Linked DNA regions of Homo sapiens: all the other regions are linked to region 3. Evidence: fine-mapped expression QTL. A gene starts in region 3. Each other region holds a variant in brackets. All regions are shown on one strand. Distances are between the middles of the regions. Region 1 overlaps USP38-DT (USP38 divergent transcript). Region 2 overlaps USP38-DT (USP38 divergent transcript). Region 3 holds the start of USP38 (ubiquitin specific peptidase 38). Region 4 overlaps USP38-DT (USP38 divergent transcript).

The links. PIP is the estimated chance that this variant, and not a neighbour inherited with it, causes the effect. A credible set is the group of variants that fine-mapping cannot tell apart.
Region 1: its variant is the best candidate, but not a certain one, in a credible set for the expression of USP38 in CD8 T cells (Kasela 2017, PIP 0.57).
Region 2: its variant is the best candidate, but not a certain one, in a credible set for the expression of USP38 in whole blood (INTERVAL, PIP 0.63).
Region 4: its variant is the best candidate, but not a certain one, in a credible set for the expression of USP38 in whole blood (INTERVAL, PIP 0.80).

Annotation. Positions count from the first base shown.
Region 1 is chr4:142,914,482-142,919,801 of GRCh38, reverse strand. All of the region lies in intron 3 of USP38-DT (USP38 divergent transcript), which reads left to right. Among named protein-coding and RNA genes, the nearest start is that of INPP4B, 71 kb to the right of the region's middle. The variant A/TTA (reference allele first, on the strand shown) is at 2,257.
Region 2 is chr4:142,962,392-142,967,711 of GRCh38, reverse strand. All of the region lies in intron 1 of USP38-DT (USP38 divergent transcript), which reads left to right. Among named protein-coding and RNA genes, the nearest start is that of INPP4B, 120 kb to the right of the region's middle. The variant T/C (reference allele first, on the strand shown) is at 3,099.
Region 3 is chr4:143,181,544-143,186,843 of GRCh38, reverse strand. It overlaps USP38 (ubiquitin specific peptidase 38), which reads right to left and starts at 1,927. Exons shown (of 10, transcript NM_032557.6): 1 at 712-1,927. The coding sequence starts at 1,393. It overlaps USP38-DT (USP38 divergent transcript), which reads left to right and starts at 1,983. Exons shown (of 4, transcript NR_185979.1): 1 at 1,983-2,336. RefSeq lists silencers at 1,536-1,785, 2,006-2,055 and enhancers at 1,107-1,991, 1,992-2,877.
Region 4 is chr4:143,138,231-143,143,550 of GRCh38, reverse strand. All of the region lies in intron 1 of USP38-DT (USP38 divergent transcript), which reads left to right. Among named protein-coding and RNA genes, the nearest start is that of USP38-DT, 44 kb to the left of the region's middle. The variant G/A (reference allele first, on the strand shown) is at 2,287.

The sequences.
Region 1 (5,320 bases), 270 kb after region 3:
ATAGCTGTGCAAGAACAGACTAATACAGCCAGTCATTATTTATTTTTGTTAGTTTATCTTACATCAATAACAGCCTTTTCAGTTAAGATCTGCACTGATGAAAAGACAAAAAGTCTAGAGAGGTTATTGGTATCAGAAAAGTGTATTTTACTTCATTCAACATGGGTAACATTTTCAAGCTCTGAAAAGGACTTTTCTATGTACTTAAAAAGGTCTTAAGGCCTCATATTTCTCCTCTAATCAAGTAGCAGGGAAATGTATTTACTTCTATTCATGAACATCTAAATGCTATTGTTGGTAATTCACAATAATTAGATAAGAATTTGAAATGAAGGCAATATTAAAACTACAATGTGCACAATAATAAAAAGTGTAATGGTGGTTTTGACATTACCATTTCTGGCTGATATTAGGATTGGTGCCAAAAAGAGATTATTTTGGCACTTGAAATATTATAAGAATGATGAATTACATCTACTTGACATTATCATTTATGATGATGCTTATTTCCCTTAATTTTAATTTCGAAGGGTAAGATAAAAGGTTAGTCTTTTTTGGATGATTAAAACACATTTTTAATCTAATTTCCCTAAGCCAAATAGAACGAAGATTTGAGAAGTTATGTGGAAAAGTCAGCAATATTTTTAGATTACTTTATAATGTACACACTGCTACCTTATTTACTTTTCATGTAGTATCTGGGCATATCATTATTTTTGCCATTTTACAGGGGAATGAAGTGAGGTTTAGAGATATTAAGTACAATAATTCATTCAATAGCAAACATTCACTTGGTAGAAAAACCAGGGATAAGGTGATTTCTGTCTCCAAATCTTGTGTACTTTCTATACCACTCTGCTTCTCATTATAATTAACAAATAATCATGATAATTTATACTTAAACATACACTCTACTATCTGTCAAATTACTCATCACCTTAGTTTCTAGTACATATTTCCAAAAAGAGAGTATGGCATGCCTTTCTTCTAAGATTAAGCTTCCTGTAACTGTTATTAAATGTGTTCATGTTTATGATCCATGTTGAATGCTATTCATCGTGTTTCCAGATTTGAGCTCTGGGCAAAGATTAATATGCTCAACATTTATAGATAGAGTCCAGGCTCCTGCTGGAGGGTTATTTCTCAAGTTCTGGCATCTCTGTTGACTTAAGGACCAGTCAACATGAGAAAATGGAGCCCACTAATTTTGGTAAGTTAAAAACATTTCTTTACAATTAACATTTTAAAATTAAAAATTAAACCAATTAAATATAAAGCATAGACTTTCTAAATTTATAGTTTTTTTTTTCATCTTGGTGAGATCACATTGCTTTAACCTTTCCCTAGAATAAAAATATCTGGTTCAGTGATGGATATTTTGAGCTGCTGGTTAGGATTCACATCTTTTTTTTCCTCTTTATTTCTTTAAGACCTCTAATTTGCAGGGGTTTAGGGAATATGTCAAAAGTTCTAGATATTCAGATCAATATATATCTAGTGATTTTTCAGATTTTTTTTTAACTGAAGACAACATTAATTGCTCCATTAGATACGGTTATAAGCAGACCACACTCAGAAGTAGGGAAATCAAGTAAATGTTTTATTTTGGGAGGTGAGGTTGATGGGCCTCTAAATTTACTTTGCAGTTTCATTTAACTCTGTTCTGTATCAGAATTCACACACGATAATAAAATGTTTTATAACATGTAGCATGTAAAACATGTTGTCAGTTTCTGTTTCTTGGTGTGAAGAAAATTATCCAACGTTATAAAAGTTAAACCCTTAGAGATAAACCATTTATATCACAATTTGTTTTTCTTAAGAAACCCTGATATCTTGTCTTTAACATGTGGCAATGTAGTCTCTTGTCCTTGCTGACCATTTCTTTACGTAGTATGCTGAAAATAAAGTTCTCAGAGTCTCCCTCTTTCGGACATTGGTTACATTTTGCCTACCTAGCCTCTTTAGCACTTCAGTTTGATGAATGAAATACAATCTGGTGGGACTCTTTATCAGATCCCCGTCTTCTACAATTTAAGGTGAAATATTTTAATCTTGTGTAGAGGAAAAAAGAGTTAAACAGCTGGCCTTCTGTCTCATCCCAGTGGTAGGCTTTCACCAGCCTGGTCCTGATTTGCCACAAATGCTGGACTTCTGATTCTTAGCCTCAGAAGCTGATTTCATTCCTTCCTATTCCCAAAGGTCCTTCTGTAGCCCGCCATCAATTCTGTAAGCTTTTTTTTTTTTTTTTTTTTT[A/TTA]CCATTTTAATAAGTTTACTTTTATCTAAGTCAGTCAGAAATTGGTTTGGTTGTTTGTAACTAAAGAACTTTAACCTAATTATATTCAAAATAATTGCTATTTTCTGCAACACTGAGTCAACCACATTTTTAAAATGAATACATCAGGATATTTCACTGATTTTTTGGTGAAAAAGCTTAGTAACACCCTTTCTTGCTGCATAGCTAATGATTGTTATTTAAGCGCTAACCCCAACACACCCTTTCTAGACTATGTCATCCCTCAAAGAAAATTGGAGCTAATATTTTTAAAAAGGTCTTTTGTCCTTTAGTATGAAATCTTAGAGTTAAATGTGATAAGAAATCATTACTTTTTCCTCTTAGATAATTAAATTATCTAATTTTTAATTCTTGAAATTTAATTAAAAATTTCTTTGATTGTAATGGATTTTTTAAACTTACCATATTATAAGAACTGATTTATAAAATACATCAGTGGTTTCATCCAAATGCAAGATAATATACATCTATGTTTGTAACTCCACATTTTGTGCCACTGATACTAGGTGATATCCAATAAGTTCATTTCATAAAAGGAATTTTACCAATAACGTAGGTTCTGTTTTCTTTTTAGCACAATATTTTTTATTAACTTTAGAGACTTGTTATGAGCAATAAGCTTTCTCTATTTTCACTAGATGATTGCAATATGAATAATGCTCCTGTAGTTTTGTCTCTTCTCCATCTTTAGTAATACAATCAATTTTTTTTCCGTCAGTAACATATTGTAATATCTCTGGAAAAACACAACTGGTTTACGAAAGAGACCATGTGATTTATTTGAAAATGAAGCAGAAGCCTTTACAATGTTTTACTGAAACTGCCATGGGGACCAGAAGTGAATGGATCGGAGGTCCAACAAAATTCACTATTGAGGCTTACACAAATAACCACAGCTGAAGATGCAATTGTCCCAGCCTATTCTGTATATTCATATTCATCTTGTATGTTTATGATATTATTTAAGCTGTGATATTTAGGTTAATATTTTCTTTAGTACTATTATGTTTAATAAGTCAACTCTAAACTATAATTTCTACTTTCATGATTTAGCAATTTGACATTAGCAATAGTAATGATAAACTGCGGTAGAAACAACAAAAATTCAAAAATAAAAAATGTAAGTAAGAAGGACACAACTACGTGTGCATGTGTCTTTATAGCAGCATGATTTATAGTCCTTTGGGTATATACGCAGTAATGGGATGGCTGGGTCAAATGGTATTTCTAGTTCTAGATCCCTGAGGAATCGCCACACTGACTTCCACAATGGTTGAACTAGTTTATAGTCCCACCAACAGTGTAAAAGTGTTCCTATTTCTCCACATCCTCTCCAGCACCTGTTGTTTCCTGACTTTTGAATGATTGCCATTCTAACTGGTGTGAGATGGTATCTCGTTGTGGTTTTGATTTGCATTTCTCTGATGGCCAGTGATGATGAGCATTTTTTCATGTGTTTTTTGGCTGCATAAATGTCTTCTTTTGAGAAGTGTCTGTTCATGTCCTTCGCCCACTTTTTGATGGGGTTGTTTGTTTTTTTCTTGTAAATTTGTTTGAGTTCATTGTAGATTCTGGATATTAGCCCTTTGTCAGGTGAGTAGGTTGCAAAAATTTTCTCCCATTCTGTAGGTTGCCTGTTCACTCTGATGGTAGTTTCCTTTGCTGTGCAGAAGCTCTTTAGTTTAATTAGATCCCATTTGTCAATTTTGTCTTTTGTTGCCATTGCTTTTGGTGTTTTAGACATGAAGTCCTTGCCCATGTCTATGTCCTGAATGGTAATGCCTAGGTTTTCTTCTAGGGTTTTTATGGTTTTAGGTGTAACGTTTAAGTCTTTAATCCATCTTGAATTGATTTTTGTATAAGGTGTAAGGAAGGGATCCAGTTTCAACTTTGTACATATGGCTAGCCAGTTTTCCCAGCACCATTTATTAAATAGGGAATCCTTTCCCCATTGCTTGTTTTTCTCAGGTTTGTCAAAGATCAGATAGTTGTAGATATGCAGCATTATTTCTGAGGGCTCTGTTCTGTTCCATTGATCTATATCTCTGTTTTGGTACCAGTACCATGCTGTTTTGGTTACTGTAGCCTTGTAGTATAGTTTGAAGTCTGGTAGTGTGATGCCTCCAGCTTTGTTCTTTTGGCTTAGGATTGACTTGGTGATGTGGGCTCTTTTTTGGTTCCATATGAACTTTAAAGTAGTTTTTTCCAATTCTGTGAAGAAAGGCATTGGTAGCTTGATGGCGATGGCATTGAATTTGTAAATTACCTTAGGCAGTATGGCCATTTTCATGATATTGCTTCTTCCTACCCATGAGCATGGAATGTTCTTCCATTTGTTTGTATCCTCTTTTATTTCCTTGAGCAGTGGTTTGTAGTTCTCCTTGAAGAGGTCCTTCACATCCCTTGTAAGTTGGTTTATTGCGGCATTATTCACAATAGCAAAGACTTGGAACCAACCCAAATGTCCAACAATGATAGACTGGATTAAGAAAATGTGGCACATATACACCATGTAATACTATGCAGCCATAAAAAATGATGAGTTCATGTCCTTTGTAGGGACATGGATGAAATTGGAAATCATCATTCTCTGTAAACTATCACAAGAACAAAAAACCAAACACTGCATATTCTCACTCATAGGTGGGAATTGAACAATGAGATCACATGGACACAGGAAGGGGAATATCACACTCTGGGGACTGTTGTGGGGTGGGGGGAGGGGGGAGGGATAGCATTGGGAGATATACCTAATACTAGATGACGAGTTAGTGGGTGCAGTGCACCAGCATGGCACATGTATACGTATGTAACTAACCTGCACAATGTGCACATGTACCCTAAAACTTAAAGTATAATGATAATAAAAAAAAAGAAAATTAAAAAATAAATAAATAAATAAAAATAAAATAAAATAAAATAAAAAAAGGACACAACTGATGTGAATACATGTTTGTTTAAATGAACTACAGCCTGTTAACTGGATGTTAGCTATGATTAATAATCAGCAGAATACTCCTAATAT
Region 2 (5,320 bases), 220 kb after region 3:
TTTTTTTTCTACCAATTCGTTATTTGAAGTGATTAGTTCTCATTCCCATTTGACCTCTACTGTAGAACTTTGGGACTAACAGTACTTGGGTAATTTTTTACATGGTGAAATTTAAAGATAATTTTATCTCAGGTCCACTCCCATCTGTTTTCCAGGATTTTCAGATAAACCACACTCTGTTTACAATGACAGTTTAATAAATATTTTTCCTGGTATTTCCAAAGAGGGGTGCAGGCTCAACAAAGCTAAGTTCTGGCAGAAAATGATACTTCTGATTTTTGATTTATTCTTAAGATGCCTAATATAGGTAGCATTCAATAGTTACAGGATTTACATCCCTTGTTCCTTTTGGTGGGTGTATTAGTTTCTCAGGGCTGCTGAAACAAAGCACCACAAACTGGGTGACATAAAACATGGACATTTATTCCCTCACAGTTCTGGAGGCCAGAAGTCCAAAATTAAGGTGTTGGCAGGGCCATGCTCCCTTGGAAGCCTGCAGGGAAAAATTGTTCTTGGCCTCTGATTCTGAGGCCTCCCCAGCCATGTGGAACTGTAAGTCCAATTAAACCTCTTTTTATTCCCAGTCTCTGGTATGTCTTTATCAGCAGCGTGAAAACAGACTTCTACAGTAAAGTGGTCCCAGTAATGTGGGGCACTGCTGAAAATATGGAAGTGACTTTGGAACTGGGTAACAGGTAGAGGTTAGAACAGTTTGGAGGGCTCAGAAGAAGACAGGAAAATGTGGGAAAGTTTGGAACTTCCTAGAGACTTGCTGAATGGCTTTGCTCAAAATGCTGATAGTGATATGCACAATAAGGTCCAGGCTGAGGTGGTCTCAGATGGAGATAAGGAACTTGTTGGGAACTGGAGCACATGTGACTCTTGTTATGTTTTAGCAAAGAGACTGGTGGCTTTTTGCCCCTGCCCTAGAGTTTTGTGGAACTTTGAACTTGAGAAAGATGATTTAGAATATCTGGCAGAAAAAAATTCTAAACAGCAAAGCATTCAAGAAATGACTTGGGTACTGTTAAAGGCATTCAGTTTTATAAGGGAAGCAGAGCATAAAAGTTTGGAAAATTTGCAGTCTGACTATGGGATAGAAAAGAAATACCCATTTGCTGGGGAGAAATTCAAGCTGGCTGCAGAAATTTGCCTAAGTAGCAAGGAGCCTAATGTTAATCCCCAAGACCATGGGGAAAATGTCTCCAGGCCATGTCAGAGACCTTCATGGCAGCCCCTCCCATCACAGGCCCGGAGGCCCAGGAGGAAAAAGTGGTTTCATGGGCTGGGCCCAGGGTCCCTGTGCTGTGTGCAGCCTAGGGACTTGGTGCCCTGTGTCCCAGCCGCTCCAGCTGTGGCTGAAAGGGGCCAACATACAGCTCGGACTGTGACTTCAGAGGGTGGAAGCCCCAAGCCTCAGCAGCTTCCACATGGTGTTGAGCCTGTGGGTTCACAGAAGTCAAGAACTGAGGTTTGGGATCCTCCACCTAGATTTCAGATATATGGAAACTCCTGGATGCCCAGGCAGAAGTTTGCTGCAGGGACAGGGCCTCATGGAGAACCCCTGCTAGGGCAATGCAGAAGGGAAATGTGGGGTCAGAGCCCCCACACAGAGTGCCTACTGGGGCACTGCCTAGTGGAGCTGTGAGAAGAGGGCCACCATCCTCCAGACCCCATAATTGTAGATCCACCTACAGCTTGGACCGTGTGCCTGTAAAAGCCACAGACACTCAATGCCAGCCTGTGAAAGCAGCTGGGACAGAGACTGCAAAGCCACAGGGGTGGAGCTGCCCAAGACCATGGGAACCCACCTCTTGCATCAGCATGACCTGAGTGTGAGACTGGAGTCAAAGGAGATAATTCTGGAGCTTTAAAATTTGACTGCCCTGCTGGATTTTGGACTTGCATGGCCCTGTAACCCCTTTGTTTTGGCCAATTTCTCCCATATGGAATGGCTGTAATTACCCAATACCTGTACTCCCATTGTATCTAGGAAGTAACTAGCTTGCTTTTGATTTTACGGCCTCAGAGGCAGAAGGCGCTTGCCTTGTCTCAGATGAGACTTCAGACTGTGGACTTTTGGGTTAATGCTGAAATGAGTTAAGACTTTGGGGGACTGTTGGGATGACATTACTGGTTTTGAAATGTTAGGACATGAGATTTGGAGGGGCCAGGGGTGAAATGATATGATTTGGCTGTGTCCCCACCCAAATCTCAATTTGAATTGTAGCTACCAGAATTCCCATGTGTTGTGAGAGGGACCCAGGGAGAGGCAATTGAATCATGGGGGCTGCTCTTTCCTGTGATAGTGAATAAGTCTCACGAGATCTGATGGGTTTATCAGGGATTTCTGCTTTTGTTTGTTCCTCATTTTCTCTTGTCACCACCATGTAAGAAGTGCCTTTGTCTCCTGCCATGATTCTGAGGCCTCACCAGCCAAGTGGAACTGCAAGTCCAATCAAACCTCTTTTTCTTCCCAATCTGGGGTATGTCTTTATCAGCAGCATGAAAACAGACTAATACAGCCTCTTCCAGCTTCTGAAAGCCCCAGACATCCCTTGGTTGTGATAATATAACTTCAGTTTCTGCCTCTGTCTTTCTTCTGTGTCCAATTTTCTCTCTGTCACCAGTCCTATTGGATCAGGGATCACCCTAATGCAGTATGGCTTCATTTTCACTGCATACATCTGCAAATACCTAATTTCCAAACAAGGTCACATTCTAAGGCTCCAGGGGGAAATGCATTTTGTGGGGACATCATTCAACCCAATAGAGGGGTTTAGAAAAGAGATCTACAAAAATTGTATTATAATCATTCTGTAGGAAGGTGAATGCTTCAGAGTGATGTTGTGCAATTTGGAACCCCCTTCACCACTCCCATCACCATCACTTAGTCCTTTTTTACATAGAGTTGACATTAAGGAGTGGACTAATTTCAGTCACTTAAATGCTTTTCTCTGAAAACTTTCTCCAAATACTAGGAAAATGAGTGCTTTGAGGAGAAAAATGGCTTTGATAAAATATTATTAAGGTGAAAACATGAAGAAATGTCCTTTACTGGGTAAACACCCTTTACCTGTGGAAAAAAAAATAAACTG[T/C]GAACATATTTTCAAGGCTTTAATTTGATCCACTTCTCTTCCCCTTAGTAGATGACCTAACCTATTACTTTACTAAAAAGCCAGCTTAAGTGAGCTCTGTCATCACGTGGCACTGCTCTTAGGTCCTTCGGTTTTTCATCCACGGCTCTGACCTCCTCCTCTTTTCTCTCATGCCCTGCCGAGAGGAAGTGCCTGTCTCCTCCTGGCAGAGGCCGACTTTTCCACTTATGCTCTTAATCTAGACCCCTTTTCTTTCTCTGAGATCTTATTCCTTCAATTTTTCTCTTTTTTCTTTGTAAATTTAATCTTCCTCTCTACTAACTCTTTCCTGTATGCCAATAAACACATTTAGGTCTCCATCTTCTGACAGACAACACTTTTTGACTCTGCCGCTAACATTTTTCTCAGGTCTCAACTTTTTTTATACTCTAAGCAGCATTTGACATCTTAACCATCTCCTCTATGATCTTTCTTTTCCCCATCTCTCATTTCTTTTTACCTTACTAATATTTCCCCCCTCTCTCCTTCACAGAGTCCCCTCTCTCATACTGTGTCTTAAAATGGAAGTAATCCAAGATTTTCTCCTCAAAACTTAAAAAAAAATTCTTTGATGATTTCTTCCTCTCTCACATCTTCAATTAATATCTTCCAAACCTAAACTTTTTACTCCCAATTTTTCATAATGCCCAGAAGACACAATAGCTGTAGCAATAAAAACAGTATTAGTTACTGTTTAATGAGTATCTGAGATGTGCTATCCATAGTGCTTTTCCTTTTCTTTTTTTCTTTTTCTTTGCTTTTCTTTTTTTCTTTTTTTTTTTTGAGACAGAGTCTCACTCTGTCGCCCAGGCTGAAGTGCAGTGGTGCGATCTCGGTTCACTGCAAGCTCCACCTCCCAGGTTCACGCCATTCTCCTGCCTCAGCCTCCTGAGTAGCTGGGACTACAGGTGCACGCCACCACACCCGGCTAATTTTTTGTATTTTTAGTAGAGATGGGGTTTCACCGTGTTAGCCAGGATGATCTCGATCTCCTGACCTTGTGATCTGCCCGTCTCAGACTCCCAAAGTGCTGGGGTTACAGGCATGAGCCACCGCGCCTGGCCTTCCTTTTTAAAAAAAAAAAAAAATATTATCTTATTTAATTCCCCTGTAAAGTATGTAAGTTGGATGTTATTACTCACATTTTTTCAGAGAAGAAAACAGGCTTGAGACATTAAGCTGTTTTCTCAAAGCCACATAGTAAAAAATCAAAAGTTCTCTGCACAGACTCTAGAAACATCTTAATAAGCCCACTGCATCTGCCTTACTTCCTATTTTTTGTTAATTACAACACTTGACTCCTTATTTTATTAATTTCAGGGCTCAGGTTCTAAATGTTAGGGTTTTCCTCCATCTTCTCCTTCATAGGACTCTTCACATCATAGCATAGTTACTTGTCAAGTTGTTCCTAATGTCTTGAATCTAGCCCTTCTTCTTCAGTTTGAACATTGCCACACTGTTTCAATCCTACCTTGTGTCTTATCTATTACAAAAGTACCTTTATTGTTATTACTCCCTTTTGCATCCTGTACTTAATGCTCTTACATGATTAGCCTTCCAGAAGCCCAGCTAGAGAGTGTCATTCAGTTTCTTGTGGTTCTTCAAAATTTTCTGCTGAATTAGATACTGACGCCTCAGACTAGAGGCGATATATAACAAATTAGAGTTTATTCCTATGATAAAATGAGAAAGTACACATAAAGTACCAGCGTCATGCTTGCATATAGAAAGGGCTTCATAAATATTTTATAATTATAACAACTTTGTGCTCTTCACAATGTAATCTAAACTTACTCTTCCAGCTTATGTGTTCCAAAGCCTTCCCACCATACCTTCTATTCTAACAGGACAAAATAAGATGTATCAATTTTTCTGCTGTAGTGCTTTTATTTATGTTGTTTTCTTTCCTGAAGTGTTGCCCTCCTTTCTTTTCATTGTTTATTTCTGCATTTGAAATCCTATCAATTACAGGTCTTTCTCAAAGGCCATCCTAATGAAAGTTTATTTTCCTGAGTGAGTAATTTTTGGTCCAAACTGATAAAACTGTTTCCTTCTATAACACCATAATGCCTTGTCTATAACTCTGAGATGACAAGAAATGTAGAATGTATGGTAATACAATTATTTGCGTACTTCTCTCATTATTTTCTGGATTATAAATCTTCTGAAGGCAGAACTTGCTT
Region 3 (5,300 bases):
GAAAGGTCCAAGACAGAACAACGAAGGTAGAGGTACTGGTAAAATTCCTCGGCGAGAAAGCATTTTCTAGGCAAGTATCATGTGACCCTTCTCTGCTTTCTGAGAATGCAGTTCATGGGCACAAAAACAAATATTTAAATCCTCGTACTCTTCCTTCCCTCATTCTATCTGTATTCCTCCTTTGTCTACTAGATACTGTAGACAAAAAATGTCACTATTTAAAAACTTCATAGTTATCTGGGATAATCCAGTAATAAAACAAACTGCACAATCCATTAATTCAAAAATGAGGAAATACAAAAATGGGGGAAAAACTCATTACAAAATTAGAGACACGTACAATAAATACTATGGTAAACATCATGCTACCATTAGTCACTAATGAATGGAAGCTTTCTGCAGTAGCTGTCATCCTCAAAGCATTCCAAATAACTTGAGCAGAGGCTGGGTAATTAAGCAACTTGTTTAGTGCCAAAGGTCTTAGACCTGGACGTTCTCAACCTTTAAAATGGGAACGCTGCCTGTTTTTAAAGTACGATGTGACGTCCTGAATAAGGTAGTGAATGTGAATAAATTTGGGATGAGGTATTAGGATTTGCTCTCGCTTAAGAATGTTTTTAGGGCAGGAGGAAAACATGGTGTGAATGTGTGTGTGCAAGAGAGACATATACTGATTTTTTATGAGATATTCTGAAAGATAATGACCCTTACCTGTGGAAGAGATGCTTGCAAAAACTTCTTGCAGGGAAGGCAGTAGTGTGGCAGGCTCGGCCTTCCAGATGTTCTGCAGCAAGTTACTCACTTTTGTCACCTGGGAGACATATTCCCGCAGCTCTCTTTCCTGGGTGGACACGCACTGGAAATGGCCTATCGTTCGAACCAGCTGTTGACAGAACGTGATGGACAATTTCCCCTTGGGGATGCATTGCACAAAGTCGGTCAGAAGGTCGCTCAGTCGGGCACAGAGCTGCGGCTCCGGCCTCTCACACACCATCCGTAACACCTCTACCTGCAGGAGGCTAAAGAGATCCAGCACCGACGGACAGCTCATAATCAGCTTCAGGCCGTTGTGAATGTAGTCCAGGATGGCTACATCCTTCCTGTCCAGAGAGTGGTAGCCCTGATGAAGGAGGCCCAACACGAAGGTCTTGTTGAAGAAGGACTCGAACTCTGGCCGGTGGTATCGTGCGTAGGCCTCCAGCACCTGGTGCCCCACCTGCCGCTGGAAAGGGTCCTGGCCCTCCAGGATGAGCCGGGTCGTCAGGTCAAACATGGCCTCGCACTGCGCCTCGTCTAGCCAGTGCTCCGCCGATTCCACCACCTTCCGCACAATCACCCGCTTGAGGGGCAGGGGATGCGAGGAACTCACAAGGCCCTCCAGGATCTTGTCCATTGTCGCCACGCTGCAAGGCCAGGGCCAGGGGATAAGGAGCGGGTGGCGGCAGCCCCGAGGTGGGGCAGGAGAGCCCCGGGGCGGAGATGAACTTGGAGCGCCGCAGCAGCAGCGCGACGGGCCACGGCCACCGCCGCCTCAGCAGCCACATTTATGGCGCAGGGAGACCCATCCAAGCCGGGGCGGGAGCTAGCGAGCCTGGAGAGCCTAAGAACCGACACCTGCGGCTGGCCTAAGGCGCCAGAGGCCCGTACTCCGCCGCCGCCCCGGGCCCTCGATCCCACTCAGCATCAGCGCCGAGGGGCCTGTCGGGCCCCCCAGCGGCGTCGGCGGGAGCTCAGGGCCCGGGGCTGCTAGCCGGCGGGTGGAGGAAGCACGCCTCCGAGTTCCGGGTCAGGTGTGGGCGTCCAGTCTCCAGCAGGTCGTGAGAAGAAGCCGGTCCTGGGCTGAGTCAGGAGGCGCTGTCACGGAGAGTGCTGGGATCAGCCGGGGAGAAGAGACCGAAGCGACACCCTTTGACCCGGATTTTGAAGTGCCGGCAAACAGGAAGTGAAGGACCTAAGAACCTCCGGAAGGACCGCCCCTCCGCCCCTCTGCCCCTCCGCCCCTCCGCCTGTCCGCCTCTCTCCTTCTCCCTTGTTCCCTCTCTCCCTCCCTGCTCCCCCACCTCCCTCCCGAGTCGTAGACTCCCTTCCCCCCGGCGCTGGGAGTCTCCTTCCCGCCCCGCCGCGCAGGTGCGGCGACGGCCGCGTCACTGGAGAGTGTGTCGAGTCACAGGCGGTCTTCCGCGCGGAGCGTCCCCGGCGGACGCTGCGCAGATGGCTGCGACTGTAGGATTCTTGCCGGCTAGTCTTCGTCGGTTCCGCCTGCGTCAGGTTACTCGTGAAAACTCGAATAAGTGCTATCGATGTGAAATCCGAGGAAAAGAGCATTTGGGGGAAAAGTAAGGAAAACTCAAAACTCGGATTGAGAAGTCTGCCTTGGCTCATTAATCAAGAATTGCGCTTGCGCGCCTAAATGTGACTGCCTTTATCCTGCGATGTCGGTATTGAAGTAAGAGCAATACTGGCGGCGTACCTAGCATTTAGCGACCATCAGTATCAGTAGCAGGCCTCTAGCAAAGAACCAGTTAGTGAGCTTTGTACCATATCGAAAATTATAAGCCGTCCAAAAAAGTGTGAGAGTAAGGAAAATGGCAGATTAGAATCAAAATATTTTTATACCTGTGTCATACAAGGGTACTTTGAAAATAGAAAACCAGGTGGAAATACCACAAAACTTATTGTATATGTTGACACCGAAGATGGTTTACAATAGGGAAGAACAGGTGCAATCATGCTTGTTCTGTTTCATGCCAAATTCCGAAGATTCACAGTAAGAATTTAATCAGAGGTCTTTATATTGGAAAATATTGCCTAACTGTAGCCTGCTTCAGGCTTGGTTAATATAGTTGTGAAACTAGACATTAAGGCCCTGTAATACAGACAAAACTTTAAAGAAATAGGTCATTTAAAATGTCCCGTAGAAAAATGAACAAAATTCTGTTACTTCAGTTTGCTAAATAGTGTTTTGTTTTTTTACCAAGTTACAAACACGATTACACTAATATATTCACACGTCGATTATGGTAGTCTTAAGAAGAGCAGTTTAGAGGAGACAGGAGCTTGAGTAAAAGGGAACTTAAGACCAAGTTGACTCGTAGGAAGATACGGAAGATAAAAGAGAATTGAGGTAATTAATCTATCAGTCATGCTAGAGACAGGAATGATTTTTCCAATAGGAGGTGAAGGTACACAGATGTTTGTCTTTACTGGGAATAATGCCACAGTGGAAGACAAAGGTAATATAGAAAATAAAATATTAAGAAGGAATTAAGTATTAAGAAGGATCGTGGATTTGAGGTGGAGTGGAGGAAATTTGGAATTAATCTTTGTGCTAAGAAACTAACAGGACGAATGAAGATTGCTGAATAGTACCAGCGAAGTGATTATTCCAAAGTAGACAAGAAAAAAATATTGGTAAATTTAAAACTTGACAGATTACTTTGAATTGTCTATAACATTTTCTTCTTTCTGTTAATATTAGGTCTTGAAAAATTGAATATTACAAAATAAGATGTCTGAGAGAACATAGTGCTATTAGTCCATATAAATTACATGTCATAATATTAGACTTCCAAAAGCACCATGACTCTGTATTTTTAAAATACCTCTTGAATGATAGATGCATGAAATGAAATACTAGGTTTTTATACCAAGATATTCAACGCTTATTTCCTTCTTTTGCCACTGGTTAAAAAATGTATGTAATATGCTCTTTTATAAGATTTCAATTGAAAGTGGCCAACTTTAAATTTATTTTATAGCATAACTAAAAGTTCTATAATAATACCATGTTCCTTTTTAACATTTTAAAATATTTTCAGAAGTCTGTGGAAGATTTTTTTGCAGTGAATCATGCCACTAATCATTGGATTAGTGGGTGCTATTGTAATGGGCTTTAAAATTTCATATAAAGATTTAGTCTAAGGCCTCAATTGCCAACTACATGGTTTTACAAATATGTTAGATCTGAGAATGGAAGCTGAGTGATGGGGATGAAAGAGAAAAAGCACAGGATAAGGAGTGATTGTTTATTTAGCAACCTCTGTGTGCCTGGAACTCAATATATTACACTTTATCCTTAGTTCTCAAAACGGGGTTTTGGAAATAGATGTTAATAGCTACATTTTATAGATAAGGTATTGAAGCCAAAGGAGGTTAAAAAAAATAATCAAGTCTGACTCTAGAGTCTCTATTATTTCCATCATACTATTAGATGAAAAGTGTGTGTATGTGTTTATGTTTGTGATAAGCAAAGAGAAAAGGCAGTTCCAAAAGCAGTGGTTAGAGTTGGCCAACTGCAATAACATTATTGTGAGGTTAGTTTTCTCTTAGGAAATTTATATCACCTAATAGAATCAAAAGCAAACTGATTGTATAGATTAGAGAGGACTGTGATAAATAAACCATCATATGAAGTAATTACAAATAATCCCTGACTTTATGAAATTTATATTCATATGTTTTTTAAGTTGTAAAGAAAAAAAGACTGTAAAGAAACACACCAACCACTTTGATATGGTTTTTGTTTTAATGACTTAAAATGGACATCAAGCTAATCTTACGACACTATTTCATTTAATTTTTTTCACAGTGCAAAGTGAAAGCAAGTTTATTAAGAAAGTAAAGGAATAAAAGACAATTAAAAATTAAAAATATACCATTGGCTACTTCATAGGCAGAGCAGCCTCACTACCCTATTTTAAATCTTCCAGTGCTTCTCCTCTTAAAATTCAAATGGCTACTGTTGACTTTAAGGCCCTCCATCAAGTTGCTCTTGTGTCTTTTCCTACTGTTCTCATTTATTATATGTTTACAGCCTTTTTCTGTTCTCTAGAATCTAAGCTTCATGAGGTCAAAAAGAACCCCTTAATTTTATTAGTTACTTCTATATCTAGCAGTTAGAACACTAGGGTAAACAATCTATCAATTTTTTTTGTCTGTGAGATGAAGTCTCTCACTCTGTTGCCCAGGCTGGAGTGCAGTGGTGTGATCTCAGCTCACTGCAGTCTCAGCTCACTGCAATCTCCACTTCCTGGGTTCAAGCAATTCTTCTTCCTCAGCCTCCTGAGTAGCTGGGATTATAGGCACCCACCACCACACCTGGCTAATTTTTGTATTTTTAGTAGAGATGGGGTTTCACCATGTTGGCCAGGCTGGTCTTGAACTCCTGACACAAATGATCCTCCCATCTCAGCATCCCAAGGTGCTGGGATTACGTGAGCCACCATGCCCAGTTCAATCTAACTATTTTTTGAATGAATGAACTTTTAAAAAATGAAATGAAAAACATGGTTTAGAAAAAG
Region 4 (5,320 bases), 43 kb after region 3:
GGTTTTTAGTGTCTCTGTCTCCTTCAGTTCTGCTCTGATCTTAGTTATTTCTTGTCTTCTGCTAGCTTTTGAAGTTGTTTGCTCTTGCTTCTCTAGTTCTTTAAATTGTGATGGTAGGATGTCGATTTTAGATCTTTCCCACTTTCTCCTGTGGGCATTTTAGTGCTATAAATTTCCCTCTAAACATGGCTTTAGCTGTGTCCCAGAGATTGTGGTACATTATGTTTTTATTGGTTTCAAAGAACTTACTTATTTCTGCCTTAATTTCATTATTTACCCAGTAGTCATTCAGGAGCAGGTTGTTTAGTTTCCATGTAGTTGTGAGGTTTTGAGTGAGTTTCTTAATCCTGAGTTCTAATTTGACTGCATTTGGTCTGAGAGACTGTTTGTTAGGATTTCTGTTCTTTTGCATTTGCCGAGGAGTGTTTTACTTCCACTTATGTGGTCAATTTTAGAATAAGTGTGTTGTGGTGCTGAGAATAATGTATATTCTGTTGATTTGTGGGGGAGAGTTCTGTAGATGTCTATTAGGTCTGCTTGGTCCAGAGCTGAGTTCAAGTCCTGAATATCCTTGTTAATTTTCTGTCTCGTTGATCTGTCTTATATTGACAGTGGGATGTTAAAGTCTCCCACTATTATTGTGTGGCATCTAAGTCTTTTTGTAGGTCTCTAAGAACTTGCTTTATGAATCTGTGTGTTCCTGTATTGGATGCATATATATATTTAGGATAGTTAGCTCTTCTTGTTGCATTGATTCCTTTACCGTTATGTAATTCCCTTTTTTGTCTTGTTTTGATCTTTTGTTGGTTTAAAGTCTGTTATATTGGAGACTAGGATTGCAGCCTATGCTTTTTTTTTTTTTGCTTTCCATTTGCTTGGTAAATATTCCTCCCTCCCTTTATTTTGAGCCTCTGTATGTCTTTGCATGTGAGATGAGTCTTCTGAATACAGCACATGGATGGGTCTTGACTCTTCATCCAATTTGCCAGTCTGTGTCTTTTAATTGGGGCATTTAGCCCATTTATATTTAAGTTTAATATTGTTATGTGTGAATTTGATCCTGTCATTATGATGCGAGCTGGTTATTTTCCCCGTTAGTTGATGCAGTTTCTTCATAGTGTCGATGGTATTTACAATTTGGTATGTTTTTACAGTGGTTTGTAGCGGTTGTTTCTTTCCATGTTTAGTACTTCCTTTAGGAGCTCCTGTAAGGCAGGCCTGGTTGTAACAAAATCTCTCAGCATTTTCTTCTCCGTAAAGGATTTTACTTCTCCTTCTCTTATGAAGCTTAGTTTGGCTGGATATGTAATTCTCAGTAGAAAATTCTTTTCTTTAAGAATGTTGAATTGGTCCCCACTCTCTTTTGGCTTGTAGGGTTCTGCAGAGAGATTTGCTGTTAGTCTGATGGGTTTCCCTTTGTGGGTAACCCGATCTTTCTCTCTGGCTGCCCTTAACATTTTTTTCTTCATTTCAACCTTGGTGAATCTGATGATTATGTGTCTTGGGGTTGCCCTTCTCGAGGAGTATCTTTGTGGTGTTCTTTGTATTTCCTGAATTTGAATGTTGGCCTGTCTTGCTAGGTTGGGGAAGTTCTCCTGGATAATATCCTGAAGAGTGTTTTCCGACTTGGTTCCATTCTCCCTGTCACATTCAGGTATGCCAATCAAACTTAGGTTTTGTCTTTTCACATAGTCCCATATTCTTGGAGGCTTTGTTCGTTGCTTTTCATTCTTTTTTCTCTAATCTTGTCTTCACGCGTTATTTCATTAAGTTGATCTTCAATCTCTGATATCCTTTTTTTGTTTGATCGATTTGGCTGTTTGATAATTGCGTATGCTTCCCATTGTTCTTATGCTGTTTTTCAGCTCCATCAGGTCATTTATGCTCTTCTATAAACTTGTTATTCTTGTTAGCAATTTGTCTAACCTTTTTTCAAGGTTCTTAGCTTCCTTGCATTTGGTTAGAACATGCTCCTTTAGCTCGGAGGAGTTTGTTATTACTCACCTTCTGAAGCCTACCTCTGCCAGTTCTTCAGACTTATTCTCCATCCAGTTTTGTTTCCTTGCTGGTGAGGAGCTGTGATCCTTTGGAGGGGAAGAGGCATTCTGGTTTTTAGAATTTTCAGCCTTTTTGTGCTGGTTTCCCCCATCTTCGTGGATTTGTCTACCTTTGGTCTTTGATGTAGGTGACCTTCAGATGGGGTTTTTGTGTGGATGTCCTTTCTGTTGATGTTGATGCCATTCCTTTGTTTGTTAGTTTTTCTTGTAACAGTCAGGCCCCTCTGAT[G/A]TAGGTCTGCTGGAGTTTGATGGAGGTCCACTCCAGACCTTGTTTGCCTGGGTATCACCAGCAGGGGCTGCAGAACGGCAAAGATTGCTGTCTCTTCCTTCCTCTGAAAGCTTAGTCCCAGAGGGGTACCCTCCAGATGCCAGCCGGAGCTCTCCTGTATGAGATGTCTGTTGACCCCTGTTGGGAAGTGTCTCCCCATCAGGAGGCATGGGGGTCAGGGACCCAGTTGAGGAGACAGTCTGTCCCTTAGCAGAGCTCGAGCGCTGTGCTGGGAGATCCACTGCTGTCTTCAGAGCTAGGAGGCAGGAATGTTTAAGTCTGCTGAAGCTGCATTCCCAGCCACCCCCCTTCCCCCAGGTGCTGTGTTCCAGGGAGATGGGAATTTTATCTCTAAGCCCCTGACTGGGGCTGCTGTCTTTCTTTCAGAGATGCCTTGCCCAGAGAGGAGGAATCTAGAGAAGCACTCTGGCTACAGTGGCTTTGGTGAGCTGTGGTGGGCTCTGCCCAGTTCAAACTTCCCCGTGGCTTTGTTTACACTGTGAGGGGAAAACCGCCTATTCAAGCCTCTGTAATGGTGGGCCCCTCCCCCACAAAGCTCCAGTGTCCCAGGTTGACTTCAGACTGCTGTACTGGTAGTGAGAATTTTAAGCCAGTGGATCTTAGCTTGCTGGGCTCCATGGGGTGGGATCCACTGAGCTAGACGACTTGGCTCTCTTGCTTCACCCCTTTTCCAGGGGACTGAATGGTTCTGTCTCGCTGATGTTCCAGGTGCCACAGGGGTATGAAAAACAACTCCTGCAGCTAGCTCAGTGTCTGCCCAAACAGCCACCCAGTTTTGTGCTTGAAACCCAGGGCCCTGATGGTGTAGGCACCCGAAGTAATCTCCTGGTCTGCGATTTGCGAAGACTGTGGGAAAAGCATAGTATCTGGGCTGGAGTGCAACATTTTTCACAGCACAGTCCCTCAGGGCTTCCCTTGGCCCACGGAGGCAGTTCACTGACCCCTTGCATTTCCTGGGTGAGGCAATGCCTCACCCTGCTTTGGCTTGCCCTCCATGGGCTGCACCAACTGTCTAACCAGTCCCAGTGAGATGAGCCAGGTGCATCAGTTGGAAATGCAGAAATCACCTGGCATCTCCATTGATCTTGCTAGGAGCTGCAGACTGGAGCTGTTCTTATTCACCCATCTTGCTAGACACCCACAGAAATATTTTTACTTAATTTTAAAAATTTGAGGTAAATGTTATGAAAAAAGTATGGATGTAGTAGGAAAAAACTTAAATTAGTCTGGAAATTTAAGGAGGGTTTCCCTGAGAAGGCATCATTTAAGCTAAAGACAGAAGGTTGAGCAGGGTGAGGAGATTTAAGATTTCCAGGGAGCAGTCAAACAGCTTGTGCAAAGGTCCTAGATCAGGAAGGAGCGTTCAAGGATCTGAATGAAAGAAAGCCAATGAACAGGTACAAAATGAGCAAGAAGGTAGGGGCTCAAAATTAGCAAGGTTAAGAAGCAAGACATTGCTAATGCATCCAGCTTTACAATTTTCTGAATGTTTCCTTACCAGATTGTTGCTTCAAGTTGATTCTATATAGAAATTCTCTGCTGACACCAGTTCTCATAGGATCACCAGAAAGAGAATGAAAGCAAAAGAGTCAGGAAAAATATCAGCAATCACTATATTGAGTGGAGTATCAGATTAAATAGCTCATGGAGGACATGTTGGTATTATTAAAATAGCAATACAAAGCATGATCTTACTGTGTAGAAAGATAGAGCTCAGAGAGAGAAAATGAGAACTTACTGCTTTATTGTAAACTTTTGTATTTATCATTTGGTGGGGAGGAGGTATTTTCTGTATGTACTACATCAATCTTTACAACAAATTTGCAAGTTAGGTATTATTTTTCCTACTTTACAGGCAATGAAATGGGCTCAGGGTATGTAATTTCCCCAAGGTCATATATATAGTGATTTTGTGTTTCTAACCAAGATTTGTCTTATTTCAAAGCCCATGTAATTTTTACTGCACCATACTGCTCTTGTAGGATATTTTAAATGGTAGGGAGAATAATTATAGTGTTAAAAATTGGATGTTTGATCTCAAGCACATATTGCGCGGAATGTGAAGAAAAGCAAAGTGTGTGCTAAGAAATGAATGTGAATGATACAAAAGGAAATAGTTACATGCCTGTGTGAATAGAACCTACTTAACTAGATGGAGTAATATGTTACCACAGCCATCTGCTAAAACGTAACAGCAATATATTGGCAACAACAGGCATCTTTGGTTTGAAAATAGGACTGACTGAGAGGCTGCCCTTGGGAACACCCCACTGAATTTACCTCCAAAGATTCAACATATACTTGAAAGGGATTTAATATATCAAATGAAAGATAAACTACTGCTTCTTGCAAAGTTTCTTTCCTCAATAAGATGAAATGTTGATTATTGCTAAAAGTTTTTCTAAAGAATGTAATAGATATAGACTAAATCTAAAAGATTTAAAAGGATTCAGGCAATCCTTCAGAAAACTTCATCAGCAGTTCTTAATTGACCTTGTAGAGAATTAATTGCATTAACTTCTATAGAAGCAACAGGAATGAATTTATGTAAATTTCTCTAATCACATTGTGCTTTCTATTTTTTTCTGCTATTGCCACCTATGGAAAATGCTTTTGTTGGGTTAGAAGTTAAATATATTAGTAGGCATATTCATGGTTTAAATTTATTTTGAGATGAATACGATATTTTTTCATATTGTGCTAAAAGCCTGGCTGCTACAAAAAATAAGCATATACACATCTTTAGATCTGTGTACTTGTTTATTTCAGACAGAGCTAAGAAAGGTAGAGTATCCTTCAAAGAAAATAAATAAGCTTTTTTCATATTATAAAGAATTAATGGGTGTAAACATAGTTTAATATTAATCATATTGATGCTCAAATTATACTATATTTGTACAGGAGGAGTTTATTCAGGTTGACTCCTGAATCCTCGTGACATGACCCTAGTAGTCCCTATTGCCTTCGTGGATCT